Regions from separate parts of the Homo sapiens genome. Here region 1 is linked to region 2. Evidence: fine-mapped QTL for protein levels in blood plasma. A gene starts in region 2. The other region holds a variant in brackets. All regions are shown on one strand. Distances are between the middles of the regions.

Region 1 (15,906 bases), 23 kb after region 2:
TATCTGTCCCACAGGGCAGAACTGTAGGACTGAGGATCCATTATTGTCCTGGGCTGACTTCACTAAGGTAACTCCCTGAATCCTGTGGAGCTGCTGGATCTAGCCCACATTCCAAATACTGGCCTTCCCACGTCCCTCCTTCCCTACACCAGAGGCAACTCCTCAGCTTTTGCTACCTTTCCATTCCTCCTCCAGCGAGAGAGCCCTCCTGGCAAGTTACCATTCTGGACATGGCTGGACAAAATTCTGGAGTTGGTACATGACCACCTGAAGGATCTCTGGAATGATGGGTAAGGCCTTGGTCACCCTTCCCTCATGGGCTTGTGCTTTCCGGGCTTGAGAGTGGAGTCTCTGCACCCTCACGTGGCAAGCAGGGAGAGAGAGCAAAGACAGGTGCAGGCCACGTCTCCTCACATTTGTTAACAATAATAAGGCCGGGTGTGGTGGCTCACACCTGTAATCCCAGCACTTTGGGAGGCCGAGGCGGGCGGATCATGAGGTCAGGAGATCGAGACCATCCTGGCTAACACGGTGAAACCCCGTCTCTACTAAAAATACAAAAAATTAGCCGGGCGTGGTGGCAGACACCTGTAGTCCCAGCTACTCAGGAGGCTGAGGCAGGAAAATGGCGTGAACCTGGGAGATGGAGCTTGCAGTGAGCCGAGATTGCGTCACTGCCCTCCAGCCTGGGTGACGAGCAAGACTCCGTCTCAAAAAAAAAAAAAAAAAAACAACCAATAATAGCCATAAACAGTGTTTGTGAAGCATCTCCTACATTCCAGAGCTTGATGGGTGCTCTTCATTAATTCTCTCATCTCATCCTTACAACCATGCTGAGTGGTGGGTTTTGCCAGCTTCATTTCATGTGAGGAAACTGAGTTTCAGAGAAGTTAAAGAACTTACCCAAGGGACACAGTTGATATTCAAATCCAGGCCTATGTGACTCCAAGCCCATGCTCTTTCCACCACACTGCCTACCAACTTGTGTAGCATTTGGCTTTTAAAAGTGCTATTCATGACCAGGCACGATGGCTCACGCCTGTAATCCCAGCATTTTGGGAGGCCGAGGTGGGTGGATCACCTGAGGTCAGGAGTTTGAGACCAGCCTGGCCAACATGGCGAAACCCCATCTCTATTAAAAATACAAAAATTAGCCGGGTGTGGTGGTGGGCGCCTGTAATCCCAGCTACTCAGGAGGCTGAGGCAGGAGAATCGCTTGAACCCAGGAGAGAAGGTTACAGTGAGCCAAGATCGTGCCATTGCACTCCAGCCTGGGTGACAGAGCAAGACTCTGTCTCAAAACAAAACCAAAAAAAAGTGCTATTTGTGGCCAGGCGTGGTTGCTCATGCCTGTAATCCTAGCATTTTGGGAGGCTGAGGAGTACAGATCACTTGAGCCCAGGAGTTCAAAACTACCCTGGGCCACGTGGTGAAACCCCGTCTCTACGAAAAATACAAAAGTTAGCCAGGCATGGTGGTGTGCACCTGTGGTCCCAGCTACTCTGGAGGCTGAGAGGTGGGAAGATTGCTTGAGCCCGGGAGGTCGAGGTGGCAGTGAGCTGTGATCATGCCACTATTCTCCAGCCTGGGTGACAGAATGACACCCTGTCTCCCAGAAAAAAAAAAAAGTGCTGTTCATCTGTGTGATCTCACTGAATCTTCGTACTTCAAACCCTCGGAAGGTGGCTATTGTCAGCAAAGTGAAGTGACTTGTAAAAGATAAAAAAAAGCTAAGTGGCAGGGCTTGGTCCAAAGCCTGGATTCCAAACCTGGGCTGTTTCTCCATACAAGGGGAGCAGGGAGGCAGGGGCCTGGTGGGGCAGGGTGTTGGGCGGTGTCTCACAGCTGCTCTCTGTGCTCCAGACGCATCATGGGCTTTGTGAGTCGGAGCCAGGAGCGCCGGCTGCTGAAGAAGACCATGTCTGGCACCTTTCTACTGCGCTTCAGTGAATCGTCAGAAGGGGGCATTACCTGCTCCTGGGTGGAGCACCAGGATGATGGTCAGCTGCTCTGCCCTGCCATTCCCACAGCCTCTCCTTTCTGCCTGGCTCCCCTCTTGCCCCTCTGCCTGCCCTTGGCTTCCCTGGCTCTGAACTGAATCCCTCAGCTGGTTTGGGACTGGGCAGCCAGAGCAGAGAGCTCCAAGGCCCGGCCTCTTCCCTCAAGCCCGCCTGTTCCTGCATTCACTCTCCAGACAAGGTGCTCATCTACTCTGTGCAACCGTACACGAAGGAGGTGCTGCAGTCACTCCCGCTGACTGAAATCATCCGCCATTACCAGTTGCTCACTGAGGAGAATATACCTGAAAACCCACTGCGCTTCCTCTATCCCCGAATCCCCCGGGATGAAGCTTTTGGGTGCTACTACCAGGAGAAAGGTGGGAATCGTTGACATACTTCATTGCTAGATTGCAGAGATCTACCAGACATCCATAGATCCCACTCCTTCCTTTAAAGCATGGGAAAACTGATATCTAGAGGAATTAAGGGATTCGTCCATGGGATACTGCTGGTTACTATGGGGATGAGACTGCCAGGACCATCTGCACTAGGGGAACCTCAGGCTATATGTCTGGCCCACTGATCTTCTCTGCTTCTTGTATATGTTCCTCACAGTTAATCTCCAGGAACGGAGGAAATACCTGAAACACAGGCTCATTGTGGTCTCTAATAGGTGAGATATGAACTCTTCATTCATCCTCCCTAATCCTTTTTGGCTCTGCTTCAGTGAATCGTCAAAAGGGGGCATTACCTTCTCCTGGGTGGAGCACCAGGATGATGGTCAGCTGCTCTGCCCTGCCATTCCCACAGCCTCTCCTTTCTGCCTTCTCCTAAGCTGCCCTATTCCAGTCTCCCCAGCCTTCCCTCCCTCCTAGCCCACTCTAGTTTTTTCTGGTTCTAGTCTCTCCTATCTCATATTTTTCTGCTGCCATCCTTAGGTTGTCTCCACAGGGGTTTCTGGATAATAATGATCATAATCACTGGTGTTAATGGGTACCTACTTGATGCAAGCATGGAGCTTTTTTTTTTTCCAGACAGGGTTTTGTTCTGTCGCCCAGGCTGGAGTGCAGTGGTGTGATCCTGGCTCACTGCAGCCTCGACCTCCTGAGCTCAAGCAATACAGGCATGCATCACCAAACTCAGCTAATTTTTTTTGTATTTTTTGTAGAGATGGGGTCTTACCATGTTGCCCAGGCTGTTCTTGAACTCCTGGACTCAAGCAATCCACCCACCTTGGCCTCCCAAAATGCAGGGATTACAGGCGTGAGCCACCACACCCCGCATATATATATATTTTTTTTTTTTTTTTTTTTTTTTTTTTTTGAGACAGGGTCTCTGTTATCCAGGCTGGAGTGCAGTGGTATAATCATGACTCACTGCAGCCTTGACCTAGGGGTTGAAGCAATGCTCCTGCCTCAGCCTCCCAAGTAGCTGAGACTACAGGCACACGCCATCACACTCAATCACACTCAGCTAATTTTTTAAATTTTTTGTAGGGATGGGGTATCACTGTGTTGCCCAGGCTGGTCTTGAACTCCTGGCCTCAAGCAGTCTCCTGCCTTGGCCTCCCAAATTGCCGGGATTGTAGGAATGAGCCATGGCACTTGGCTGGGGATAGAATTTTTTTTTTTTTTTTTTTTTTTTTTGAGACAGTCTCACTCTCATTGCCCGGGCTGGAGTGCAGTGGTGCAATTTCAGCTCACTGCAACCTCTGCCTCCCAGGCTCAAGCAATTCTCCTGCCTCAGCCTACTGAGTAGCTGGGATTACAGGCGAGCGCCACCCATGCCTGGTTAATTTTTGTTTTTTTTTTGAGACAGAGTCTCGCCCTGTTGCCCAGGCTGGAGTGCAGTGGCACGATCTCAGCTCACTGCAACCTCTGCCTCCCAGGCTCAAGCAATTCTCCTGCCTCAGCCTCCTGAGTAGCTGGGACTACAAGCGCGCACAACCACCACACCTGGCTAATTTTTGTATTTTTAGTAGAGACAGGGTTTTACCATATTGGCCAGGCTGGTCTCAAACTCCTGACCTCATGATCCGCCCACCTTGGCCTCCCAAAGTGCTGGGATTACAGGCGTGAGCCTCTGCACCCGGCCTAACTTTTGTATTTTTAGTAGAAACAGGGTTTCACCATGTTGGCCAGGCTGGTCATGAGCTCCTGGCCTCAAGTGATCTGCCCGCCTCAGCCTCCCAAAGTGCTTGGATTACAGGTGTGAGCCACCATGCCTGGCCTGAGAGTTTATTATGCGCCAGGCACTAGGCTAAATGGTTTGCATTTATTTTCTCATTTTATTGAATCTACAAAATAGTCCTGTGAAGTAAACACTGTTACTGTTTTCAGCTAAGGAACTGGATTTAGAGTAGTCAAGTTTTGTACCTAAGGTACGTGGCTAATGATACAGGTCTGTTAGATTCCGTAGCCCTGATTTTAACCACCCTACTGCCTCTCAAGAATTACTAGGTATTGTTCTCATTTATAGATGATAAATCTGAGGCTCAGAAAAGTTAGGCCACTTGCCTAAGGTCCCCCAGCCAGGATTCAAACTCCAGGAGGCCTGATTCCAAACCCATGCTCTTTAGCCCTCCGCCCTACTGCCTTCTTAGACTAGCTTCTGCTTATTCTACCATTCCTGATTTCATTTGAACCACTGAGCCCTGCCCCTTTGTCTGTCTTTGGGTATCCAGACAGGTGGATGAACTGCAACAACCGCTGGAGCTTAAGCCAGAGCCAGAGCTGGAGTCATTAGAGCTGGAACTAGGGCTGGTGCCAGAGCCAGAGCTCAGCCTGGACTTAGAGCCACTGCTGAAGGCAGGGCTGGATCTGGGGCCAGAGCTAGAGTCTGTGCTGGAGTCCACTCTGGAGCCTGTGATAGAGCCCACACTATGCATGGTATCACAAACAGTGCCAGAGCCAGACCAAGGACCTGTATCACAGCCAGTGCCAGAGCCAGATTTGCCCTGTGATCTGAGACATTTGAACACTGAGCCAATGGAAAGTAAGTGATGAGATGGAGCTATGGAAGATGGCACACATTCCCTTTCCTACCTCTTCTCCCTCTCCCATTACAGAAAAAGCTGAACTCCAAGCTCCTCATTGGAGAGAGGTCCATTCTGTGATTCCTTTTTTTAGGAATTACACATGCCTTCCCCCACCTCCCTGCTCTTTCATCCCACAAGTTCCCACTCAGGCTCTTCCCAGGCCTTTCCTGCCATCCTCCCTCCCTTTCCCTGCTGGGTTGGGAACTCCTAACTAAGATCGGGGCCTCACTTTTCTCTCTGGATTACCTAGTCTTCAGAAACTGTGTAAAGATTGAAGAAATCATGCCGAATGGTGACCCACTGTTGGC[T/C]GGCCAGAACACCGTGGATGAGGTTTACGTCTCCCGCCCCAGCCACTTCTACACTGATGGACCCTTGATGCCTTCTGACTTCTAGGAACCACATTTCCTCTGTTCTTTTCATATCTCTTGCCCTTCCTACTCCTCATAGCATGATATTGTTCTCCAAGGATGGGAATCAGGCATGTGTCCCTTCCAAGCTGTGTTAACTGTTCAAACTCAGGCCTGTGTGACTCCATTGGGGTGAGAGGTGAAAGCATAACATGGGTACAGAGGGGACAACAATGAATCAGAACAGATGCTGAGCCATAGGTCTAAATAGGATCCTGGAGGCTGCCTGCTGTGCTGGGAGGTATAGGGGTCCTGGGGGCAGGCCAGGGCAGTTGACAGGTACTTGGAGGGCTCAGGGCAGTGGCTTCTTTCCAGTATGGAAGGATTTCAACATTTTAATAGTTGGTTAGGCTAAACTGGTGCATACTGGCATTGGCCCTTGGTGGGGAGCACAGACACAGGATAGGACTCCATTTCTTTCTTCCATTCCTTCATGTCTAGGATAACTTGCTTTCTTCTTTCCTTTACTCCTGGCTCAAGCCCTGAATTTCTTCTTTTCCTGCAGGGGTTGAGAGCTTTCTGCCTTAGCCTACCATGTGAAACTCTACCCTGAAGAAAGGGATGGATAGGAAGTAGACCTCTTTTTCTTACCAGTCTCCTCCCCTACTCTGCCCCTAAGCTGGCTGTACCTGTTCCTCCCCCATAAAATGATCCTGCCAATCTAATGTGAGTGTGAAGCTTTGCACACTAGTTTATGCTACCTAGTCTCCACTTTCTCAATGCTTAGGAGACAGATCACTCCTGGAGGCTGGGGATGGTAGGATTGCTGGGGATTTTTTTTTTTTTAAACAGGGTCTCACTCTGTTGCCCAGGCTAGAGTGCAATGGTGCAATCACAGCTCACTGCAGCCTCAACCTCCTGGGTTCAAGCAATCCTCCTACCTCAGCCTCCTGGGTAGCTAGCACCATGGCATGCGCCACCATGCCCTATTTTTTTTTTTTAAAGACAGGGTCTTGCTATATTGCCCAGGCTGGTCTTGAACTGGGCTCAAGTGATCCTCACGCCTTGGCCTCCCAAAGTGCTGGGATTATAGGCATGAGCCACTGTGCTTGGCCAGGATTTTTTTTTTTTTTTTTTTGAGATGGAGTTTCTCTCTTGTTGTCCAGGCTGGAGTGCAATGGTGTGATCTCGGCTCACTGCAACCTCCGCCTTCCGGGTTCAAGTGACTCTCCTGCCTCAGCCTCCCCAGTAGCTGGGATTACAGATCTGCACCACCATGCCCAGCTAATTTTGTATTTTTAGTAGAGACGGGGTTTCTCCATGTTGGTCAGGCTGGTCTCGAACTCCTGACCTCAAGTGATCTGTCCACCTCGGCCTCCCAGAGTGCTGGGATTACAGGCGTGAGCCACTGTTCCCAGCAGGAATTTCTTTTTTATAGTATTGGATAAAGTTTGGTGTTTTTACAGAGGAGAAGCAATGGGTCTTAGCTCTTTCTCTATTATGTTATCATCCTCCCTTTTTTGTACAATATGTTGTTTACCTGAAAGGAAGGTTTCTATTCGTTGGTTGTGGACCTGGACAAAGTCCAAGTCTGTGGAACTTAAAACCTTGAAGGTCTGTCATAGGACTCTGGACAATCTCACACCTTAGCTATTCCCAGGGAACCCCAGGGGGCAACTGACATTGCTCCAAGATGTTCTCCTGATGTAGCTTGAGATATAAAGGAAAGGCCCTGCACAGGTGGCTGTTTCTTGTCTGTTATGTCAGAGGAACAGTCCTGTTCAGAAAGGGGCTCTTCTGAGCAGAAATGGCTAATAAACTTTGTGCTGATCTGGAAATGTCTCATCTCTGATCCTCTTTATTTCCCTGCTCACAAAGGCTAATGTTCTTAGGGACACCAACAAGCTGCACAGGAATGAAGTCAGAAAATTGTGGCCTCTCTTCCATCCACCCCTCTACATTCCTCTTGTCATATTTCTTCTTCCCTTCCTGTTTGGAGTAGCCCCTCCTGTCCGTTAGACTCTTCTAGGGGTGCTGGGAGCTATATATGCATTGTGGGGGGAGGGATGAGTAGTTATATAACTGTCTCATTGTCACTCAGCTGATTGTTGGCAAAGCCAAAACACAAACCTGTCTGGATTTTTCTGACTTCAAACCCACACTTTTTGATGCTGTGACTATGGAAAAAAAAGGAAAGGAAATAATCACTAGCCACTTCCCCTCATCTTTTCTTTTTTTCAAAGAATTTCAGCTACCCTTGAGTTACCAAACTTCCAAAGGGACTCCAAGGCCGGGCATGGTGGCTCATGCCTGTAATCCCAGCACTTTGGGAGGCCGAGGCAGGTGGATCACCTGAGGTCAGGAGTTCAAGACCAGCCTGACCAACATGGTGAAACCCCATCTCTACTAAAAATACAAAAATTAGCCAGGCGTGGTGGTGCGTGCCTGTAGTCCCAGCTGCTTGGGAGGCTGAGGCAGGAGAATCGCTTCAACGTGGGAGGCGGAGGTTGCAGTGAGCAGAGATCACGCCACTGCACTCCAGCCTGGGCAACAGAATGAGACTCCATCTCAAAAAAAAAAAAAAAAAAAAAAAAAAAAAGGGATTCCAATTGTCCTTTGAGAGGAAAGTCCCATTATTCTAGGATATTTATCTTCATTTCCCTGGAATGCCCTTCCTGCTCAAAGCTGAACTCTGACTTTTGATCCTGCAATGATCAGGACTCCCGTCTTTGATCAGATATACTCTTGGCCAAGAAAGCAGGGAAGGAGACACTGGATCAGGGAGCAAGTGACCCTTAGGTATGATCCCACTTCCTAATCTGGTAATCCCATTCTGCTTGCTCAGCCATATAGGAATTAATACTAAAGAGATCCCAGTTATTCTATACACCAGGGGGTCATGAGAAAATATCATTCTCCACCATAGCCCTTCAGAATAGAAGAAAGGGATGCATATTGTAGTCTCTTGGCCTTATTTTTCCATCGATTTCTCTTTCCCAATTGAGCCTAGAAATTAGACTCATATAGCCACAAAAATAAGACTTTATTGAAAAAAGTACATAATTCAATATAAATACAATAAATAATCCTCCCCAAACTGTCCCCAGGAGGATAAATAATCCCCAAATTTCCCTTCCCATCTAATAAATACTCAACCTTATCATAGGTCAGCATCACATGTCAGTCAGTATTGGTAATTTTCAACATATGCAGGTCCCACTAAAATTAATGGACTAATTAACCTGTTGGCTCACAGGTGCCTGGGGTGGTAGATTTATCTTGGCCTTGCTGGGCCATGGAGATCTGAGTGCCATCCTTGAGCTGCTGCCTTTAGGGACTCAGGGTTGCTGCTCCATGGGCAAAGACCCGGGCGGCTACAGCCACAAAGGCCTGGAGGCTGCGAAGGATTTTGAAGCGGAGAAGGAGACGCTGCCATGGCTGGCTGGGACTGAGGCTTGGAATCTGCTGAGTCTCCCAGTGGTGACCCTCAGGCTGAAAGGACATAGGACACAGTCAGAGAAGACTCTAAACCCTTAACCCCCAACCCTCTGTCTCTGACACCTGCAAGCCCCCATCCTCCACGCCCCTACTTCATACCTGCAGGAGTTGGCTGAGGCCCAGTAGGGAGGCATGAAGCTGGCCCACAGGGCTATCAGGGAGCAGAGAAGGCTCCCCTGTGAAAATATCCGATCCTAGCAGCTTCTCATAAAAAATCAGACCCTGGTGGATCCTTTGCAAGCAGAACTAGGGAGAAAAGAAAGCAATGAAAGAGGACACCCTCTTCCTACTCCATTCACTGAAGACTCACCCAGTTTCTTACTATTTTCAGACACAACTTCTGGTTTACCATGGTACCCAGCCATGTTCTCAGTCCCCTCTCCTTCATTGCCCAGCCACATCCCAGTGGTACCTGACTGTTGTCCCTGAGTCCTTGGGGGTCACAGCCATCTCCACACTGGATATGGGGAACATCATTTGTAGTCTCTTCATCTCCCTCTTCTCTTAGATCCTGGAATGAAGGAAGAGGTGGAAAGAATGAAGAAGTAAGATAGTACTTCTGAAGCCAACCTGGACCCTCAGGCCCATGACTCTCCCAGGAACCCTACTCTCTTGTCCTCTCTTACTCCCTAATGGCCTTCAACCCTCCAGCTTCCACTCAAGGTCACGGTCTTCTGCCACAGCCTTGGAGAGCCTGGACTCCTGTTAGGCTCCAGGGGCTGCCACTCACCATGTGTCCCACTAGTGGATGTGCACTCCAGGCCAGTGTGCAGAGCTTCTGTGAAAGCTGCTGGCACTGAGTCCAGGCAGGGCTGCTGCCCCCAGGCACAGCTCTGCCCTGAGCTGTCCAGGGCAGCAGCAACAGCAGCATTACAGCTCTGCTCCCCAGCATCTTTTTGCCTTCTTCTCAAATCTGGCTGGCTCTGCGCCTTGCACCAGTCCTGGTGGAATCTCTGCCCACTTCCACTTGCTTTGAGCCTGATTCTCTCTGTTCAGCGCGTCTCTGGTTTGGTTCCCTCAGTTGTTCACCGAGTTTGTAAGCTGCTTCCTGTTGTTTTTCTCCCTTTGTCTCTGAGTCTTTTAAGGTCCCTGCATTGTAAGGCCCGCCCTTTATACCAGCAGGTGACTCACAGCAGGTGGGATTCCCCTCCCTGCATCATCCCCCTCTGTGGGGAGCCCAGGTATGCAGCCTCAGTTCCAGGGGAAATGAGTAGTGTGGTTGCTGTGGCTAGAGGCCTGGGATGGGACACATGTGTAATGCTCTCCAGGAATCGAAATAGCTATAGAAGGGGCGGGGATGGGGGGCACAGCGGGGATGGGGTGGGAGGGGTAAGGGAGAACAAATATTTAAATTAATCTGGTCTCAAGTTCCTTCCTGTTTGATCTTTCCCTGATCTTTTTGCCTCTCAAAGCTATACCCCTACCCCACCCCAAACCTAATTTCCTCACTTCCTCCTGCTTGAGGAAAAAGCAAAACAGAGAAACATCCATTCATCTCCCAATAGGATGGTGAGCTGTTTGCAATGAAGTTTGATTCCTACCTGATGCCCCCTATTAGGAATAAACGGGCTTCTTTTTCTCAGTTGGAAACAACATTATTTCAACTGGATGGTCCTGGTTTCATGGGAGAGAATGCGCATGAAGGAACTTGGAGAACTGGGAAGCCAGTATGAGGTCTTATTGCTCCCCATTTCAGGCCTCACAGTGGAGGTTAGAAAGGCTCTTGTGGGAAGAGGGTTATTGACTAAGAACCACCTGACTCCTCAACCCTAGTGGCCCAAGATTTCATAGGCTCTATAAGAGTTGGATGATGTTTTTTTCAGGACTAGTGCAAATAAGGCCTGGAAGTTCAACTTAGACATTCCAGCACCTAGTCCCATGGCCTCATTCTGACGTCATCCAAATTGTTCTGGGACCCTCCACTGGGGTCGGGGCAGTCCCAGCTTTGGACCCCATGGCTAGGAAGCCCAGGAGTTCTGGGTAGTCGAAGGTGCACTGTCAATGACTCTGGCTGGTCCTTCAGCTTGTTGCATCCATGGGTAAAATCCACTGACACCGATTTCATCACCCTCCATGATGCAACATCGAGTGAAACAGCTAAGAGTGTGAGGTTGGGCGTGGGAGTGGAAGGTGGTCCAAAGCCGGGACTGCCCCGACCCCAGTGGAGGGTCCCAGAACAATTTCGAAGACGTCAGAATGAGGCCATCGGTGACCACACAGCTGGCTCCCAAAGCCTCCCCCAAGAGGTTGACCCTTTTCTTCTGAGAAACTTGTCCTGAATGGAGGTCTCCCTTCCCTTAGAGCTATTCAAAACTGCCCAATGACACTTCTGGTTCAAATATTATGATTCTGTAGGTATGAGCTAAGAGAAGAAAAAAAAATATTACGATTCTAAGTTAAATCTACCAAGGGCCGGGTACAGTGGCTCACGCCTGTAATCCCAGTACTTTGGGAGGCCGAGGCAGGCGGATCATGAGGTCAGGAGTTCGAGACCAGCCTGGCCATCATGGTGAAATCCTGTCTCTACTAAAAATACAAAAATGAGCCAGCACGGTGGTGGGCGCCTATAGTCCCAGCTACTCGGGAGGCTGAGGCAAGAGAATCGCTTGAAGCCAGGAGGCAGAGGTTGCAGTGAGCCGAGATGGCGCCACTGCACTCCAGCCTGGGTGACAGAGCAAGACTCTGTCTCAAAAAAAAAAAAAAAAAAATGGAAATCTACCCTTTAGATTAAACATTTCCAGCATCAGAGAATTATCTGAGTTTGGGTGAGAACTGTTTTGCCTCTCTCCCTAATAAGGTGGACACCAATGGAATAAGGAAAGGGGAGGGGGCAGGATAGGGAGTTCACCTTACTTGTGTACAACGTCTCCTATGTTCTTCCCATCTCTGGTCCCCATTCTGGGAGCCCTAAAAGATAAGAGATGAAAGAAAGATGAAAAGGAGGAGGAAGTAGAGCCTGGGGGATGGGATGAGAGGGACAAGGGTGAGTTGGAGGCACAGGGCTCTGCCTCTTTGTTTCACTTCCTGGTGCTGCAGGAGTTGGGTAGGAAGAAGGGTTGGTGGGGAGATTGTGGGACTGTTGCGTGGCAGGAACTACATCCAGGGCTACAACTGACCTGGAGCTATAAGGAGCCCTTGACGTCAGCTGGGCCTAAACCGTTATGCAAATCGCATTCACAAGACACTCCTAGGCAGGTCTTTCCAGTTGTATGCCTAGACTCCAAATCAGTTGAAGTTCCCCCAGGTGGTTAATAATGATGGCTAATATATCCAACTCTCGCTTAATGCCAAATACTTTGTCTAAGCACTTTACATGTACTAAACTATTTAATTTTCACAACAACCCTTTAAGGTAGATACTATTACCCTATATTACAGAGGAGGAGGCTGAGGTGCAAAGATAAGCAATTTGCCCAAGATCACAGAGCTTCTAAGTGGCTAGAATTCCTTTTTTTTTTTTTTTTTTTTTGAGATGGAGTTTCGCTCTTGTTGCCCAGGCTGGAGTGCAATGGTGCCATCTCATCTCACCGTAACCTCTGCCTCCCGGGTTCAAGTGATTCTCCTGCCTCAGCCTCCCAAGTAGCTGGGATTACAGGCATGCACCACCATGCCCGGTGGCTAATTTTGTATTTTTAGTAGAAACAGGGTTTCTCCATGTTGGTCAGGCTGGTCTTGAACTCCCAATCTCAGGTGATCCACCCGCCTGCGGCCTCCAAAAGTGCTGGGATTACAGGCATGAGCCACCACACCCAGCTTAAGTGGCTAGAGTTCTAATGCAGACAATCTAGCATCAGATCCTGCATTCTTTTTTGTTCTTGGTTTTTGGGGGGTTTTGTTGAGACAGGGTCTCACTCTGTCACCCAGGCTGGAATGCAGTGGCACCATTTCCGTTCACTGCAACCTCCACCCCTGGGACTACAGGCACAAGCCACCATCCCGGTCTGGATCCTGAATTTTTAATCACTGCATTACACTGGATACTGTACGCCAGGTATGGTGGCTCATGCCTGTAATCCCAGAACTTTGGGGGGCCGAGGCAGGAGGATCGCTTGAGCTTAAGAGTTCAAGACCAGCCTGGGTAACGTGGCAAAACCCCACCTCTACAGGAAAAAAAAAATTATCTGGGTTTGGTGGCCAGTGCCTGTAGTTACAGCTAGTTGGGAGGCTGAAGTGGGAGGATCGCTTGAGCCCAGGAGGTTGAGGCTACAGTGAGTGAGAGGGCCAATGCGCTTAAGCATGGGCAACAGAGTGAGATCCTGTCTCAAAAAAAAAAAAAAAAAAAGGCTGGGCGCGGTGGCTCACACCTGTAATCCCAGAACTTTGGGAGGCCGAGGCAGGCAGATCACCATCTAATATTACTGTATTAGAAACAGTAATTACAGCTGAGCTAAATAATCTATGTCATGGATGCTCTTGTGTCTCCTCACAGTATCCTTTTTTCTTTTCTTTTTTTTTTTCTTTTTTTTGAGACGGAGTTTCGCTCTTACTGACCAGGCTGGAGTGCAATGGTGCCATCTCGGCTCACTGCAACCTCCGCCTCCCAGGTTCAAATGATTCTCCTGCCTCAGCCTCCCAAGTAGCTGGGATTACAGGCTCCCGTCACCAGGCCCGGCTAATTTTGTATTTTTAGTGGAGACGGGGTTTCTCCATATTGGTCAGGTTGGTCTCGAACTCCCGACCTCAGGTGATCCGCCCACCTCGGCCTCCCAAAGTGCTGGGATTACAGGCGTGAGCCACTGCGCCCGGCAGACATGGATTATTTAGCCCAGGTTATTAGGGATCTGTAACTCTCATGGGTCTGTTAAGTCTTTCTCAATTTGAGACCTCAAGATGGAGATTTCTTAAAGTGTAGGAACTGTCTATGTCTCTCAGCATCCACCTTTTTCGGAGATTCTATATCTAATGACCTGCGAAGTCAGATCAAATCAGTTTGAGAGACCATCTGTGTTTTTCTCTTGGTCTAGGCTCTAGGTAGGATCTCTGACTGGGTATAGGACCCCACCCCTCTGAGTCCTAGAAATTTAAATTCTTGGTTCCTTTAATGAAGGTCTATTTACCAGCCTTTATTGAGAGAAATGTTATAGAATTGAATCCTCCATGAGGAATGTCTCCCATCAGAGTCCCTTTATGTGGCCTTTAGAAACAGTAATAACAGCTGAGCTAAAGTGCTCTGAGACATCTCACAACCTAGACCCATTTCAAAGTAATTAGAGTTCACAGGACCCACGAATCCTTCAGAATAACAAGTCCCAATTTGCCATGCTCATCCCCCTCTGAGGGATAACGTCCAGCCAGCCTCAAGAGCTAGGGGAATTTGATAACCAGGGGCATCTTGTTACCCGGGAATGTTACCGGGGTCTCTGGGGAGGGAACAATCACGGATGGGAGTTTCAGATGGATGCCTGTAGAAGATGCAGCCACTTGGACTGTGTCAGGAGTCCGGCTCCCGCTTCCTTTTTTTTCTCTCCCATATCTGGAAATAATAGGAAATGCCAGCGAGTTTTGGGGGCAACAGGGTCAGAGGTGGCGGAGTGGCTCACTAGGGCACCGCAGGAAGAGGAGGTAGACTAAGCCCCGCTGGGAATACCCAACAGCGACTCCTAGTGCTTTGCCTTGTGTGTCCCTTATTTTAGAGTTCCTAAAGTTATAGAAAGCATAAAAGTTTGGTTTTCAAACCTAGACGTAATTTTGTTCAAGAAGACTAAAAACAGAGTTACTTTCTAACGCCACCCAACAAGTCCGGCGTCTGGCTGCGTTTGTCCCACCGGCGCCCCGTAACCTCTTTTTCCGGCGCGTGCGTCACACGCTCTCTCCTGGGGTCGCCGTACCTGGCTCCTTCTGATTGGCTTAGATGCGCCCGGAGCCCTTCTGATTGGCTAAAATATGCCCCGAGCCCTTCTTGATTGGAAGAAGCGCCTCGGACCCCGGTCCTTGGCGCCGTAGTGGTTAGGTTGAGCCCTAGGCGTGGGGGAGAACTGGGGAAACTGGAATTTCCCGCGGAGCTGACAGCGCTTGCGCTCCCCCTACTCGTTCTAATTCCACGCGCTCCAAAATATCCGCCATGGAGAAATCTTGGTAATGACCCATTCCCCGTAAGCATCCCAGGAACACATCTGACCCTTGCCCTATCCCCCTCCTCACCGCTGCCGTGGGAGAATTCTAGATAACCGATTTTTCTGGTTCCCCCAGAGAATTCTGGGTAACTAGCCGTTTCCGTCACCTTCCCCTGCCCCCGCCCCAATTGTGGGTAACTGGCCATTATTGTTTTCCTCTAGAGAATCCTGGGTAGCTATTGGAGAGGATTCTAGGAAACTGACTTCTCGTTCTCCCCACCGTCCAATCCACCCGTTTTCACCCCCAATTCTGGGAGAAAGCACCTTAAATCCCTCTACCTAACTCCAACCCCCGCAATTCTCGCTCCCTTCACCTGATGATTCAGGGCTGAACAAGGCAAGTGAGCAGTCCGAAGTGAGAAGAAAGGGAAGTCAAGGATTAGGTTAGATAATGGGGTGGTGGAGAGTACAGAGGGCCTAGCGGAGGAGGGATAGGGACAACAGTTCTACCACCTCCACCCCCACTGCCCATCCCTCCCCCGCCTGCTTCATCCTTTGGCTGGCAGTCTCATCCCTCATGCCTGCCTCATCTCCCTCCTGCCCCCATAACCTAGAAGACCCTAAGTACCAGTACCTGGGCCTACCCTTGACTCAGCTACCTCTTTCCCCTTACAGGCCAGGATGTCCATTCTAGGCCCATCGGTGCTGTCTTGCTGAAGGTTGGGTCAGGCATCTAAAGGGACTGTGGTAAGGGAGGGTGTGACACAGGTGTAAGCTGCCATCGTCATCATGAACTTTGAGGGTCTGGACCCTGGACTGGCAGAATATGCCCCAGCCATGCATTCTGCCCTGGACCCTGTCTTGGATGCCCACCTGAACCCAAGTCTGCTACAGAATGTGGAGCTGGACCCAGAGGGAGTGGCCTTGGAGGCTCTTCCCGTCCAGGAATCAGTGCACATAATGGAAGGTGT
Region 2 (15,217 bases):
GTGAATTATATTGATTGTTTTTCGTACACTGTGCCACCTTTATATTCCAGGAATAAATCCCACAGTGTATAATCCTTTTAATACATTGCTAAATTTGGCTTGCTGGCATTTTGTTGAGGATTTTTGCATCAGTATTCATAGGAGATATTGGTGTATGTTTTCTTTTTTCCTAGTGTATGTCTGCCTTTGGTATCAGGGTAATGCTCACCCCTGGAATGAGTTAGGAAATGTTCCTTCTCTTTGATCTTTTGGCAAAGTTTGAGAAGCATTAGCATTAATTCTCCTTCAAATGTTTGGCAGAATTCACCAGTGAAGCCATCTGGTCCAGGGCTTTTCATTTTGGGGAGATTTTTGATTATTGATGCAATATCTTTAATTCAAATTTTCTATTACTTCATGATTTAGTCTTGGTAAGATATATGTTTCTAGGAATTTGTTCATTTCATCTAGATTATCCAATTTGTTGGCATGTAATTGTTTAATTACTCTTATAATTCTTTTAATTTTTGTAAAATGTAATGTTCCCACTTTCATTTTAACTTTAATAATTTGAGTCTTTTTATCTTTTTTTGTTGTTAGTGTAGCTAAAGGTTTGTCAATTTTGTTCATCTATTTGAAGAACCAACTTTTGGTTGCACTGATTTTCTCAATTGTTTTTCTCTTATCTGTATTATTATTTATTTATTTATTTATTATTATTTTGAGACAGAGTCTCCCTCTGTCACTCAGGCTGGAGTGCAGTGGTGTGAAGCCTCTGCCTCCCCTGTTCCAGTGATTCTCCTGCCTCAGCCTCTCAAGTAACGGGGGTTACAGGCATCTGCCACCATGCCTGGCTAATTTTTGTTTTTTTGTTTTATTTATTTATTTATTTAGAGACAGAGTCTAGCTCTGTTGCCCAGGCTGGAGTGCAGTGGCATGATCTTGGCTCACCGCAACCTCCACCTCCCAGGTTCAAGCAATTCTCTTGCCTTAGCCTCCCAAGTAGCTGGGATTACAGGTATGCACCACCACAGCTAATTTTTATATTTTTAGTAGAGACGGGATTTCACCATGTTGGCCAGGTTGGTCTTGAACTCCTGACCTCAGATGATCCACCTGCCTTGGCCTCCCAAAGTGCTGGGATTATAGGTGTGAGCCACTGCGCCCAGACAATTTTTTTTTTTTTTTTTTTTTTTTTTGAGACGGAGTCTTGCTCTGTCGCCCAGGCTGGAGTGAGTGCAGTGGTACGATCTCGGCTCACTGCAACCTCCACCTCCTGGGTTCAAGCAATTTCCTGCCTCAGCCTCCCGAGTAGCTGGGACTATAGGCGTGTGCCACCAAGCCCAGCTAATTTTTTGTATTTTTAGTAGAGATGAGGTTTCACAGTGTTAACAGAATGGTCTCGATCTCCTGACCTCGTGATCCACCCACCTTAGCCTCCCAAAGTGCTGGGATTACAGGCATGAGCCACCTTGCCGGGCCTATTTTTAATTTTTTCACAAGTATTTGTGCCTAAAGGTATTCTCTGTTTTATTTATCTCTTCTCTAATCTCTATTATTTCCTTCCTTATAATAGTTTTGGGTTTAACTCATTCTTTAATCTTCTTTAGTCTCCTTTAATCTCTTTTAGTAATGTTTTGTAGTTTTCTTTTCTTTTAAAAAAAAACCTTTTTATTATGGAAAATTTCAAATATATAAAAAAGTAGAGAAAATAGTCTATTAAACACCTATTTCTCATCACCTAATTCCAAGAATTATCAATTCATAGTCATATACTCCACATTTTCTCACCTCCACCATTTTCAAGCAAATAATATATTTTCATCCATAAGTATTTCAGTATGAATCTCTAAATGATGAGAGCTCTTTTTTTTCTTTGACTTTTTTTTTTTAATACTTTAAGTTTTAGGGTACATGTGCACAACGTGCAGGTTTTTTACATATGTATACATATGTCATCTTGGTGTGCTGCACCCATTAACTCATCATTTAACATTAGCTATATCTCCTAATGCTATCCCTCCCCCTCCCCCCACCCATGTAGTTTTCAATGTACAAGTTTTACACTTATAGCTGCTATTATAAATGCAATTTTCTTAACTTCATTTTCAAATTATTCATTGCACATATATAGAGATATCATCGATTTTCGTGTATTGATAGTGTATCCTGCAACTTAGCTGAACCCATTTATTAGTACTTATTTTGTGTGTGTGTGTCTATGTGTGTGTAAGTTTGAGTTTTTTTAATATGCAACATCATGCTACCCACTAATATAGGTTGTTTTACTTCATCCTTTCTAATCGGGTACATTTTATTTCATTGTCTTGCTTAATTACTCTGGCTGGAACCTCCAGTACAATGTTGAATAGAAGTAGCAAGAGTGAGCATCCTTGTCTTGTTTCTTCTTTTAGGAATTTTACTTGTTTATTTTAAACACTATTGTAATTGGAATTTTTTTTTTCATTTTATTTTTCTGTAGAAACAGGGTCTCACTATGTTGCCAAAGCTGGTCTCAAATTGCTACCCTCAAGCAATCGTCCCACCTCAGCCTCCCAAAGTCCAGGTGTTACAAGCTTGAGCCATGGTAACCAGCTGGAATTTTCTAAGTTAATTTTCTTTTTTTTTTTTTTGAGACAGAGTCTTGCTCTGTTGCCTAGGCTGAAGTGCAGTGGCGCGATCTTGGCTTACTGCAACCTCCGCCTCCCGGGTTCAAGCGATTCTCCTGCCTCAGCCTCCCGAGTAGCTGGGATTACAGGCGCCCACCACCACACTCAGCTAAATTTTTTTCTTTCTTTTCTTTGAGATGGAGTCTCACTCTATCACTCAGGCTGGAGTGCAGTGGCGCGATCTCGGCTCATTGCAACCTCTGCAGCCCAGGTTCAAGCGATTCTCCTGCCTTAGCCTCCTGAGTAGCTGGGATTACAGGCACACACCACCACGCCCAGCTAATTTTTGTATTTTTAGTAGAGATGGGGTTTCACCATGTTGGCCAGGGTGGTCTTGAACTCTTGACCTTGTGATCCACCCGACTCAGCATCTCAAAGTGCTGGGATTACAGGTGTGAGCCACCGCGCCTGGCCAATTTTTTGTATTTTTAGTAGAGACAGGGTTTCACTGTGTTAGCCAGGATGGTCTTGATCTCCTGACCTCGTGATCCACCCACCTTGGCCTCCCAAAGTGCTAGGATTACAGGTGTGAGCCACCGCACCCGGCCCTAAGTTAACATTCAATGTATGTTTTTAGACTACAGAAATAGAATTCATTTATATATTAATATTTTATCTTGTCACCTTGCTAAATTAACTTATTGGTCCTTTTAAAATTGTATTCTTTAGGATTTATGCATAAACAATCACATTGTTTCTTTTAATTTTTTATTTTTTAATTATTATTTTATTTATCTATCTATCTATCTATTTATTTATTTATTTATTTGAGACAGGGTCTCCCTCTGTCACCCAGACTGGAGTTCAGTGGTACGATCACAGCTTACTGAAGCCTCAACCTCCTGGGCACAAGTGATCCTCCTGAGAAACTGAGACTACAGGCGTGTGCCACCACAGCTGGACAGCTGAGCTGGCTAATTTTTTTTTTTTTTTTTTTTTTTTTTGCAGAAACAGGGTCTCCCCTATGCTGCCCAGGCTGGTCTTGAACTCCTGGACTTTGGCCTCCCAAAGTGTGTGAGCCACCATGCCTAGTCCATGTTGTTTTTATTTTGTATTACTTTTTTAAATTTTATTATTATTACTTTTTGAGACATGGTCTCACTCTGTCACCAAGGTTAGAGTGCAGTGGCAGAATCATAGCTCACTGTAACCTCCCCCTCTTGGGTTCAAGCAATTCTCCTGCCTCGGCCTCCCGAGTAGCTGGGGCTACAGATGCACACCACCACCCCTGGCTGTGTTTTTTATTTTTTGTAAAGATGGGGTTTCACCATGTTGGCCAGGCTGGTCTCGAACTCCTGGTCTCAAGCCCCGCCCCATGTCTTTTTTTTGTTTTTTTGTTGTTGCTGGTTTTTTTTTTTTTTTTTTTTTTTAGATAGACTCTCACTCTGTTGCCAGGCTGGAGTGCAGTGGCGAGATCTCGGCTCACTGCAATCTCTGCCTCCCGGGTTCAAGTGATTCTCCTGCCTCAGCCTCCCGAGTAGCTGGGATTACAGGTGCGCACCACCATGCCTGGCTAATTTTTTGTACTTTTAGTACAGACGGGATTTCACCATGCTGGCCATGGCTAGTCTTGAACTCCTGACCTCGTGATCTGCCCGTCTCAGCCTCCCAAAATGCTAGGATTACACGCGTGAGTCACTGCGCCCAGCCCCCATGTTGTTTTTAAGAGTCTCATGTTCTACCGACTGAGCCAGCCAGAGCTATGTTGTATTTAAATAAATATCGTTCTACATCTTCCTTTCTAGTTTTATGCCATTTATTTTTTATTCTTTCCACATTACACTGGTTAGAACTTCCAGTACAATGAGGAAAAACTGGTAAGAATGGATATTTCTGCTTTGTGATAGATCTTAGGAGACAAGGATTAAATCTTTCACTCCTTCTAGTGTTGCTACACAGAAACTATAGAGTCCTAGGAGGCTGGGTGCAGTGGCTCAGCACTCTGGGAGGCCTAGACAGGAGGATCCCTTGAGCCCAGGAGCTCGAGACCAGCCTGGCCAACATAGTGAGTTCCCTTCTCTACAAGAAAATTTTAAAAATTAGCCAGGTGTGGTGGTACGTGCCTGAAGTCCCAGATATATAGGAGTCCGAGGTGGGAGGATTGCTGGAGCTTGGGAGTTCAAGGCTGCAGTGAGCTGTGATTGTACCAACTGCACTCCAGCCTGGTATACGTGTATGTGTGTGTACGTATATTTTATCCATGTAGGTATATGTATATATATTGTCTTAGGGATTCCCCAGGGGTTTGGGGTCTAGTAATTTCAGACAGTGTTGGACTCCTTTCCACTTAGTTCTTGCTGTTTCTAAGTTGGCACTGTGTCCCTGGAGACTTACTCCTCTGCTTCTGTCTTTGCTCTTAGTTGTCAGGGGCCACTCCTGGGAACTGAAAGAACCGAAAAAAATAGAGGGAGGGACCCTGGACCCTGCCATTGGCCTAGTCCCTTTGGCCATGTGCCTGAGGTGAGTGACATCAGAGGAAACTTTAGGCCATAATGATATGTAGGAACTGGTACCATTTTTAGGAGGCATCAGATGTCTTATTTCCCTAATTTTTGGACTAATGTTACCCCTAAACCCAAGATAAAGCCTAATTCCTGGAGTTTTGGTTAGATTTGGAAAGTTACTGCTCAGCTGATGGACATGTTTTATTTGTGTTTTGCATTGGAATTAGAAAAGTGAAAAATAAACCAGGTGCAGTGGTTCATGCCTCTAATCACAGCACTTTGGGAGGCTGAGGTGGGAGGACTGCTTGAGACCAAGAGTTCAAGACCAGTCTGGGAAACATAGTGAAACCTCATCTCTACAAAAAAAAAAAAAAAAAATTTTAGCTAGGCATGGTGGTGCACACCAGTAGTCACAGCTACTTGAGAAGCTGAGGCAGGAGGATCTTTTGAACCCAGGAGTTAAACGCTGTGGTGAGCCATGATCAGGCCACTGTACTCCAGCCAGGGAGATAGAGCAATACCTGGACTGGACTCTAAAAAAGAAAAAAAAAGTTGCTCTGATTTTGTCTTATTTGTCAATCTGTCCAGTTTCCCTGGACTCCCATCCAGTATATTCTCTTTTTCAGACAAAGTCTCGCTCTGTCACCCAGTCTGGATGGTGCAGTGGTGTAATCATGGCTCACTGCAGCCTTGACCTCCCCAGGTTCAGGTGATCCTCCCACCTCAGCCTCCCCAGTAGCTGGGACTACAGGTGCATGCCACCACTCCTGGCTAATTTTTATAATTTTTGTAGAGACGGGGCTTTCGCCATGTTGCCTAGGCTGGTCTCAAACTTCTGGGCTCAAGCCATCTGCCTGCCTTGGCTTCCCAACCAATATATTCTTTTAATAAGAAAAATGGTGACCAGGCGCTGTGGCTGGCTCAAGCCTGTAATCCCAGCACTTTGGGAGGCCAAGGTGGGCAGATCACCTTAGGTCAGGGGTTCAAGATCAGCCTGGCCAACATGAAGAAACCCCGTCTCTACCAAAAATACAAAATTAGCCGGGAATGGTGGCACACGCCTGTAATCCCAGCTACTTGGGAGGCTGAGGCAGGAGAATCACTTGAACCTGGGAGGCGGAGGTTGCAGTGAGCTGAGATCGCGCCATTGCACTCCAGCCTGGTCAACAAGAGCGAAACTCCGTCTCAGAAAAAAAAAGAAAAGAAAAATGGTTTAGGGGTCCCAGAGATCACCAGCTATTCTGCCTTACCCTTTCTCCCCTCAAGAAGATACGGAGGACCTTTTCCTCAGCTCAAATATAGGTTTAGGGTAAAACCTTAGGATAGAAAAGATATGTCACTGGGTGCCGTGGCTCACGCCTGTAATCCCAACACTTTGGGAGGCCGAGGCAGGCAGATCATTCGAGGTCAGGAGTTTGAGACCAGCCTGACTGACATGGTGAAACTCCATCTCTACTAAAAATACAAAAACATTAGCTAGGCGTGGTGGCGCACACCTGTAGTCCCAGCTACTCGGGAGGCTGAGGCAAGAGAATCTCTTGAACCTGGGAAGTGGAGGTTGCAGTGAGCCAAGATCACGCCATTGCATTCCAGCCTGAGCAACAGAGTGAGACTGTCTCCAGAAAACAAAACAAAACAAAAATTTGCCAGGCATGGTGGTGCGTGCCTGTAATCCCAACTACTAGGGAGACTGAGACACAAGAATCGCTTGAACCCGGGATGTGGAGGTTGCAGTGAGCTGTGATCGTGCCACTGCACTCTACCCTGGGCAACAGAGTGAGACTGTGTCTCCAGAAAAAAAAAGGAAAAGAAAAAGAAAAAGAAAAAAAAAAAAAGATATGGGACAGGACTGCAGGGCCTAAAAGGGGAAAGGTCAGTTTGTCAGTATGGGTCAAAGGTGAGAAGGACAAAGTCTGGGCTGGGAAGAGATGCATAAATATTTGCAAATGTTTTGTCCTTCACTGTTTTGGAAGCCATCAACTTTCTGGTTTCCTTGTGATTCTGGGAAAGGGCAGATTAAAAACAGCAACAACAACAATAATAGTAATTCAGGTCATGAAGATACCAAAGCAAATGAGATGTTTGGACTGTTTTTTTCCTCTGACTTGTTTCTCCTCAAAATAGGAGGATCACCCACATCCTTTAAGAGTGAAGATGAGGTGTGCTCAGGGCAACCGAAGTTTCCAAGAGCTAAGACACTTTCTAGCTCTGGCCAGTCTTGGTGTCTCTTTGTCCTGAGCCTTTCTCCACTTCCCAACCTGAGCACTGCTTCCTTCCAGCAGGGCTGCTCTGCTGTCCCCCCATGGTCCAAGCTGTGCTGCTGCTTTGCTGTGTCCTGCTGTCCCTGGTGTCTGCCTTTCCAAGAAATGCTCAGAATGAGACTCTGACCCTCCAGCCATCTTTAACAGAGACTGGGCATCCATCAAACATGCTCTCCATTATTTGGAGAACATGGAGAGCCAGATTCCTCTCCCAGATCCCAGGATCTGCCAAGATCTCTTACACACAGCCCCCTCCCTAGCCCCTCTGCCTGAGTACCTGTCCAACTTAGCTCTGAGGGTGCCCTTGGAGGAGGTGGGCTGCCCAACTGAGGCCCATGTTCTGCAGTTTCAGATGCGAGGAAAGGATACCACTGAAACCCTCATCCGTGAGAGTCAAAAAGTTCAATGGGGAGGAAGGCAATACCAACATCATTGTGACGAATCTAGTAGTCCCTTAGGGAAGTGTGAATAAACCCAGCACCCAGCTGCCCATCCTGGGAAATGTATGGATGGTGGCAAATATACCCACTGGGGTAGCTGGCCTACCAGGTAGCTCAGATGGTGATTGAGTTTGCTGAGAAACCATCTCCCATGATGCTTGGTGTCACAGTTCAAAGTTTTGGGTGTCCACATCACCAAGAACTGCAGGTATGAGTCTTGGGAGCATATTGAAGAATTAGGCAAAAAGTTGAAGAAGCTCTCAAGATCATTTAAATTGTCCATGGACAGTGACAATATAATCTATCAAATGTTCCACAGCTATTCTGAAGTGCTTTGTGAGGAAAATGATCCAGGAATTGATCCCGGCTCATTTCAGCTATTCAATATCACATAAGTAATGAGTCTCCTTTCCCAGGACTGTATTCAAGGATGGCACACAGTAAGTAGTTAGAAATGTTGGAGACCACTTAGGACAGATGAATGCTCTTTATTTCACCTCTTCCCTTAAACACATATGTGACCAGTGTTAGCCTTGCCCCTCTCCACTTAGTAGGTGTCAGCTCCCCTCCTTTTTTTTTTTTAAGACGGAGTCTCACTCTGTCACCCAGGCTGGAGTGCAGTAGTGCGATCTTGGCTTACTGCAACCTCCACCTCCCGGGTTCAAGCAATTCTCCTGCCTCAGCCTCCTGAGTAGCTGGGACTACAGACGCCCACCACCACGCCTGGGTGTATATATATATATATATATATATATATTTTTTTTTTTTTAGTAGAGACAGGGTTTCACCATATTGGCCAGGCTGGTCTCGAACTCCTGACCTTGTGATCCGCCCGCCTTGGCCTCCCAAAGTGCTGGGATTACAGGCGTGAGCCACCATGCTCAGCCGCTAATTTAATTTTTAAAATGAAGAGAAATGAGAGTATCACAAACATCTCATCTTTCCTAATTCTGAATTTCCCTGGCTCCTATCATGAGCTTAGAGTGGGAATGTGGCAGGGACATACAGGAAATGCCAAAGAACAGGACTGTAGGCATAGAGGTTGAGTGTGTGACAAGGGGCACAAGGTTTGAGCAGCCAGTATAAATGGGCAAATATTTGCAGAGATTACATCCTTCACTGATCATAGGGGAAAGCAAATATCTCCTTTCCTCATGGGACACAGAACTAGGCAGAACAGGATCAGGAAGCGATCAAACCTACCAAGGCAGTCTCACTTCTCAATGACTGGACTGTGTGGTAATTTGGGGTCCCTATATATGGGTGGAAATAAAACAGAAGTCCCTGGTGACCTGTAAATGGGGGAGACCAAGTGGGAGCAACTGGGGTGCATTTCCTATTTCCTAGGCCTTTACCTAAAAAGAACAGAAGCTTGGGGCCAGGCGCGGTGGCTCACATCTGGAAGCCTATCACTTTGGGAGGCGGAGGTGGAAGGATCACTTGAGCCCAAAGTTCAGAACTAGGCTGGGCCAGATGGCAAAACCACGTCTCTACAAAAAATTTAAAAATTAGCTGGGCATGGTGTCACGCACCTGTAGTCCCAGCTGCTTGGGAGGCTGAGGCAGGAGGATCCCTCGAGCCCAGGAATTCAAGGCAGCAGTGATTTGTGATCCCATCACTGCACTCTAGTCTGGGCAACAGAGCAAGACCCTGTCTCTAAAAAGAAAGTACAAAAGCTTGGAAGCAGGTGATGTATGAGGTGTCCCCCTAACTGAGTCTTGGGCTCACCATCGCCCTTAGGGAAATGGTTTGTATGTTTCGGATTTCTCCCCTTTCTAGGGTACTCTGCTCCAGACATGCGTGGCCTCAGACTCATCATGATACCAGTTGAGCTGCTACTTTGCTACCTCCTGCTGCACCCTGTGGATGCCACTTCATATGGAAAGCAGACAAATGTCTTGATGCACTTTCCCTTGTCCTTGGAATCCCAGACACCCTCCTCAGACCCCTTGTCCTGCCAATTTCTGCACCCAAAGTCACTGCCTGGTTTCAGCCACATGGCCCCTCTACCCAAGTTCTTGGTAAGCCTGGCTCTAAGGAATGCCCTGGAGGAAGCTGGTTGTCAGGCTGATGTTTGGGCTCTACAGCTACAGCTCTACCGCCAGGGTGGTGTGAATGCTACACAGGTCCTCATCCAGCATCTTCGAGGGCTCCAGAAAGGCAGAAGCACAGAGAGGAACGTGTCAGTGGAAGCCCTGGCCTCTGCTCTGCAGCTGTTAGCCAGGGAGCAGCAAAGCACAGGAAGGGTCGGGCGCTCCCTCCCGACAGAGGACTGTGAGAATGAGAAGGAGCAAGCTGTGCACAATGTAGTCCAGCTGCTGCCAGGAGTGGGAACCTTCTACAACCTGGGCACAGCTTTGTATTATGCTACTCAAAACTGCCTGGGCAAGGCCAGGGAACGAGGCCGAGATGGGGCCATAGATCTGGGATATGACCTTCTGATGACCATGGCTGGGATGTCAGGGGGGCCTATGGGTCTAGCGATCAGTGCTGCACTTAAACCTGCATTAAGGTCTGGGGTTCAGCAGTTGATCCAGTATTACCAAGATCAGAAAGACGCAAACATCTCTCAGCCGGAGACCACCAAGGAGGGTTTGAGGGCCATCTCAGATGTGAGTGACTTGGAAGAAACAACTACTCTGGCTTCTTTCATATCAGAAGTAGTAAGTTCAGCTCCCTACTGGGGGTGGGCCATAATCAAGAGCTATGACTTAGATCCTGGGGCTGGGAGTCTTGAGATATAAAAGAATGTGGTAACCACAGAATTAATAACTGTACTACCCTGACAAGCTATATACATGTCTTCAAAATTTTAATCTGATTTATCCAGGAGGAAGGCTGTACAGTAAAACGTAAGAACGTAAATGTTTGGGTGTTGAAGTCACAGGGTTTGGTTTCGAATCTAGGCTCCACTTGTTAGAGCCTCGGTGATCACTGAATAGTAACTTCTTTCTTGAACTAAGATCAGTTTTGAAGTTTCTAAAGGAGATAGAATGATTTTAACCTCAATGAGTTGCCCTGTAAATTTAAAATGATACAATGAATCTAAAATGCTTATCACAGTACTTTCAATAAATAGCTATTAGCCAGGTGCGGTGGCTCACGCCTGTAATCCCAGCACTGTGAGAGGCTGAGGCGGGATGATCACCTGAGGTCAGGAGTTCAAGATCAGCCTGGGCAACATGGCGAAACCCCGTCTCTACAATAAATACAAAAAATTATCCTGGCGGAGTTATGCACGCTTGTAGTCCCAACTACCTGGGAGGCTGAGGCGGGAGAATCACCTGAGCCTGGGAGGTCGAGGCTGCAGCGAGCCGAGATCGCGCCGCTGCATTCCAGCCTGGGTGACAGAGCGAGACCATGTCTCAAAAAATAAAAATAAAAAAAAATTGTTTTCATTACCTCAGCCCTCCTCTTCCTATCCCAAGGCGTCGAAATTCCGGTCCCACCCCTTCCCATGGAGCCCTTGGCGTCTCCAGGCTCCTCAAGCTAGTTTCGGTTCCGGGGCTCACGCGCGGGTTCTCGAAAATCAGCTGTTTCAGTCTTGGGCTAGTCCACTAATTGGACTCCTCCCCTCGTAGAAAGTGCCTACTTGAACTTCTCCACCAATCGCTGAAGCTGCAGGTGTGGTTTCGGCTCAGCTTGTCCCGCCCTGCGGAGGGGCGGAGTTGCGGCGGCGCCAGTGAGCTCGCAGTCTGGGAAGGGCTTGACTGAATGGCAGCCAGTGTCGGGGTGGCGGCTGGGAATGGGGGCCGCTCCGGACTTCCGCTGCCAACTACAAGGGGGCGGGTCCGAGGGGGGTTAGCCGAAGTTGTAGGCGGGGCGCGAGGTTCTAGTACCCGAGCTCATACTAGGGACGGGAAGTCGCGACCAGAGCCATTGGAGGGCGCGGGGACTGCAACCCTAATCAGGTACGGGCCCTGAGAGGGTGTGCTGGGGTAGGGGTGGGGGTGAGAGTGAGAGTTCCTCCGAGGGAAGGGCGACTGGCCCCAGGGGTTACCCCCTGGAGAGGGTAGCTTCGGTCCCCAGATTGAAATAGGAGCTGTCGCCTGCTCGGTCCTCGATCTTCTTCTGTCCAGCCTATCTCCCTAACCCTAATGCCCCTCTCCCAAAACTGCCCTGCAGCTTCCGAGACCCGGAATCTGGCATTGTTATGTTGGTTCGGTATCTGACGTTTTTCCCTCTGCTCTGCATTATTTTTTATCTTCACCAAAAAACGATGTTCAAAGATAGATAAATCTAAAAACAAAGATAGATAAATCTATTATCCTTGTTTTGTTAAAAAGTATAAGCTACTGAAAGATGAAACGATTGCCTAAGGTCACACACAAAATTCAGTTCATTTCAGAAAAGCTTCTTGAGTGCAAAATATGTGCCTAAGAATGAGAGATAATGAGAAAAAATTGTTTCAGCCCTTAACCTCAGTGTTTGCAATCCATTTGGGGAGACCAGGTTTTTTGTTTTGTTTTCATATTTGAATCTTTGCTGACTTGCTCCTTTAATATCAGACACTTAAATCCTCAAGAATTGGGACCTCATCATTAATTTTTTTTTGGAGATGGAATCTCACTATGTTGCTCAAGCTTGGTCTCAAACTCCTGGGCTCAAGCCATCCTCTCGTCTTGTGGGCCTCACAAAGTGCTGGGATTACAGGCATGAGCCATCATGCCTGGCCACCTGATCATTTTTTTAACTTTTTTTTGGTATCATAAAAGCAATACAGATACATAGTTTTAAAAATCAAGCACTACTAAAAGAGTTAAAATGAAAATAGCCCCTGCCCAATCCCTCCCTTCCCTTGTTCCTGCTGGAGGTAGAAAGGCAGCTGATGTTATTCATGTTAGTAGAAGACTCTCCCACCCCAAGCATTTCTCTTTATTTTGTAATAAAATCATGTGACCTTTTTAGACCACAAATATGCATGAATTCTGTTCTGTTAGGCTCAGGCTGCAACAAGCATAAGTTTCAGTTTCCTAAATAGACACCAGCTGGCAGTGAGCAGGGAACAGTGGGGAGAAAGATGCATGGGACAGCCTGCTTGGTGACAGGCAAAAACCAATTTGTTGTTCTTTTGAGACAGAGTCTTGCTTTGTCACCCAGGCTGGAGTGTAGTGATGTGATCTCTGCTTACTGCAACCCCTGCCTCCTGGGTACAAGCCATTCTCCTGCCTCAGCCTCTTGAGTAGCTGGGATTACAGGCAACAATTTTAAGTGAAGTTTCAGGATCTCACAAAGTTGATAACCTATAATCATATTCAAGATTCACAGGTCATAAACGTGTCATATTCTTGGGATTGAGCCACCCATTGCACAGCATTTAGATGTCTTCTAGAATGGAGCTCCTCCTTCCTATATGGAGGGCAGTTTATATGGTGTACTTACCTGACCACCAAAAAGATTTGGCTCCTAAAAAAGCTTCAGGTGGCCGGGCATGGTGGTTCACCCCTGTAATCCCAGCACTTTGGGAGGCCAAGGTGGGCAGATCACCTGAGGTCAGAAGTTCCAGACCAGCCTGGACAATATGGTGAAACCCCATCTCTACTAAAAATACAAAAATTAGCTGGGCATGGTAGTGGGCGCCTGTAATCCCAGCTAGTCGGGAGGCTGAGGCAGGAGAATCCCTTCAACTCGGGAGGCAGAGTTTGCAGTGAGCCGAGATCGTGTCACTGCACTCCAGCCTGGGTGACAGAGCAAGACTCCATCTCAAAAAAAGAAAAAAAAAAAAAGAAAAAAAAAAGCTTCAGAGCCAGCAGGGATCATGCTGTAATAAATACTTAACATCAACACTGATCTTTAAATGCTTTAGCACAATCAAATATAAATAACAAACACACACATAAATGCAAAATAAATGAATTAGGGAGATAGATGAAATAAGATTGTGGAAATAGTAATGTTTGTTAAAGCTGGATGGTGATCCTTGTACTATTCACTCTACTCTAGTGTGTATTTGAAAATTACCATTAGGCTGGTTATGGTGGCTCATGCCTGTTAATCCCGGCATTTTGGAAGGCTGAGGCAGGCGGATTACTTGAGCTCAGGAGTTTGAGATCTGCCTGGGCAACATGGCAAAATCCCATCTCTACAAAAAATTAGCTGGCATGATGGCACACTCCTGTAGTCCCAGCTCCTTGAGGGGCTGAGGCAGAGAATGGCTTGAACCTGAGAGGTCAAAGCTGCAGTGAGCCAAGATCATGCCACTGCACTCCAGCCTGGGTGACCAAGTGAGACCCTGTCTCAAAAAAAAAAAAAAAAAAAGAAAGAAAATTCCCATTAAAGCACAAAGGCCCACTTATTGAAGCTATTAAAATACAGGTTGGGGCCGGCTGGGCACAGCGGCTCACGCCTGTAATCCCAGCACTTTGGAAGGCCGAGGTAGGCAGATCACGAGTTCAGGAGATCGAGACCATCCTGGCTAACACGGTGAAACCCCATCTCTACTAAAAATACAAAAAAAAAAATCAGCCGGGCATGGTGGCGGGAGCCTATAGTCCCAGCTACTCGGGAGGCTGAGGCAGGAGAATGGCATGAGCCCGGGAGGCGGAGCTTGCAGTGAGCCAAAATCACACCACTGCACTCCAGCCTGGGCAACAGATCGAGACTCCATCTGAAGAAAAAAAAAATACAGGTTGGGACCACAGTGGCTCATGCCTGTAATCCTAGTACTTTGGGAGTCCGAAGTAGGTGGATCACCTGAGGTCAGGAGTTTGAGACCAGCCTGGCCAACATGGCAAAACCCCATCTCTACTAAAAAATATACAAAAATTAGCTGGGCGTGGTGGTGGGTGCCTGTAATCCCAGCTACTCAGGAGGCTGAGGCAGAAGAATCACTTGAACCAGGGGGATGGTGGTTGCAATGAGCCAAGATCATGCCACTTCACTCCGGCCCAGGCAAAAGAGTGAGAGTCCATCTTAAAAAAAAAAAAAAAAAAAAAAAAAAAATACAGATTAGGCATTCCTAATCTGAAAAATTTGGCTCCAAAATGCTCCAGTGAGCATTTCCTTTGAGTGTCATGTGGGTGCTCAAAAAGTTAGATTTTGGACCATTTCAGATTTCAGAGTTTTGGATTAGGGATGCTCGACTGGTAAGTAATGCAGATATTCCAAAATCTGGACAAATCTGAAATCCAAAATGCTTGGAATAGCAGATACTCAACTGGTAGCACTCCCTGGAAGAATATGCACCAAACTGATAGCAGTGGTTACTTCTGGAGAGGAGGGGAAAGAACCAAGATTAGCAGTAGGATCAACATATATTTTAATGTTTTCTGTATTTTTATTACTTGTATAATTTAAACATTTTAAATTAGTAATAATGAACAATCATGAAACTATGGATGATTTAGTCCAGCAAAATATCCAATTGGGAACCCTCATCCTTCTGACGCAGAGCCCAAATGGCGCAGTGGGAAATGCTGCAGAAT

Which allele goes with the higher level. Positions count from the first base shown, and alleles are read on the strand shown. Strength reflects both the effect of a copy and how common the allele is.
As copies of C replace T in region 1, the plasma level of the protein whose gene starts at base 11,655 in region 2 goes down (moderate association).

What was found. PIP is the chance, under the fine-mapping model, that this variant and not a neighbour inherited with it causes the effect. The UK Biobank Pharma Proteomics Project read protein levels with antibody pairs (Olink). The fine-mapping took linkage between variants from a reference panel, not from the people measured, so its PIPs are less certain.
Region 1: its variant is fine-mapped to the plasma level of the STAT2 protein (UK Biobank, PIP above 0.99). The variant lies in the coding sequence of STAT2. If it changes the protein, the assay may bind it differently, which can mimic a change of level.

What each region holds. Positions count from the first base shown.
Region 1 is chr12:56,332,913-56,348,818 of GRCh38, reverse strand. It overlaps IL23A (interleukin 23 subunit alpha), which reads right to left and starts at 9,935. Exons shown (of 4, transcript NM_016584.3): 1 at 9,613-9,935; 2 at 9,295-9,393; 3 at 8,982-9,128; 4 at 8,409-8,876. The coding sequence starts at 9,774. The coding sequence ends at 8,715. It overlaps STAT2 (signal transducer and activator of transcription 2), which reads left to right. Exons shown (of 24, transcript NM_005419.4): 18 at 15-67; 19 at 196-290; 20 at 1,864-2,000; 21 at 2,195-2,377; 22 at 2,616-2,673; 23 at 4,684-4,994; 24 at 5,288-7,222. The coding sequence ends at 5,430. PAN2 (poly(A) specific ribonuclease subunit PAN2) reads left to right here and starts at 14,819. Exons shown (of 26, transcript NM_014871.6): 1 at 14,819-14,957; 2 at 15,611-15,906. The coding sequence starts at 15,725. RefSeq lists silencers at 1,376-1,425, 9,640-9,934, enhancers at 8,988-9,157, 9,645-9,944, 9,423-10,622, 11,200-12,047, 14,382-14,551 and 2 more and cis regulatory regions at 14,898, 14,883-14,914. The variant T/C (reference allele first, on the strand shown) is at 5,346.
Region 2 is chr12:56,356,545-56,371,761 of GRCh38, reverse strand. STAT2 (signal transducer and activator of transcription 2) reads left to right here and starts at 11,655. Exons shown (of 24, transcript NM_005419.4): 1 at 11,655-11,704; 2 at 15,184-15,217. The coding sequence starts at 15,191. It overlaps APOF (apolipoprotein F), which reads left to right and starts at 8,905. Exons shown (of 2, transcript NM_001638.4): 1 at 8,905-9,032; 2 at 9,573-11,194. The coding sequence starts at 9,017. The coding sequence ends at 10,537. RefSeq lists enhancers at 11,173-11,262, 11,333-11,512, 12,588-12,757, 12,589-12,788.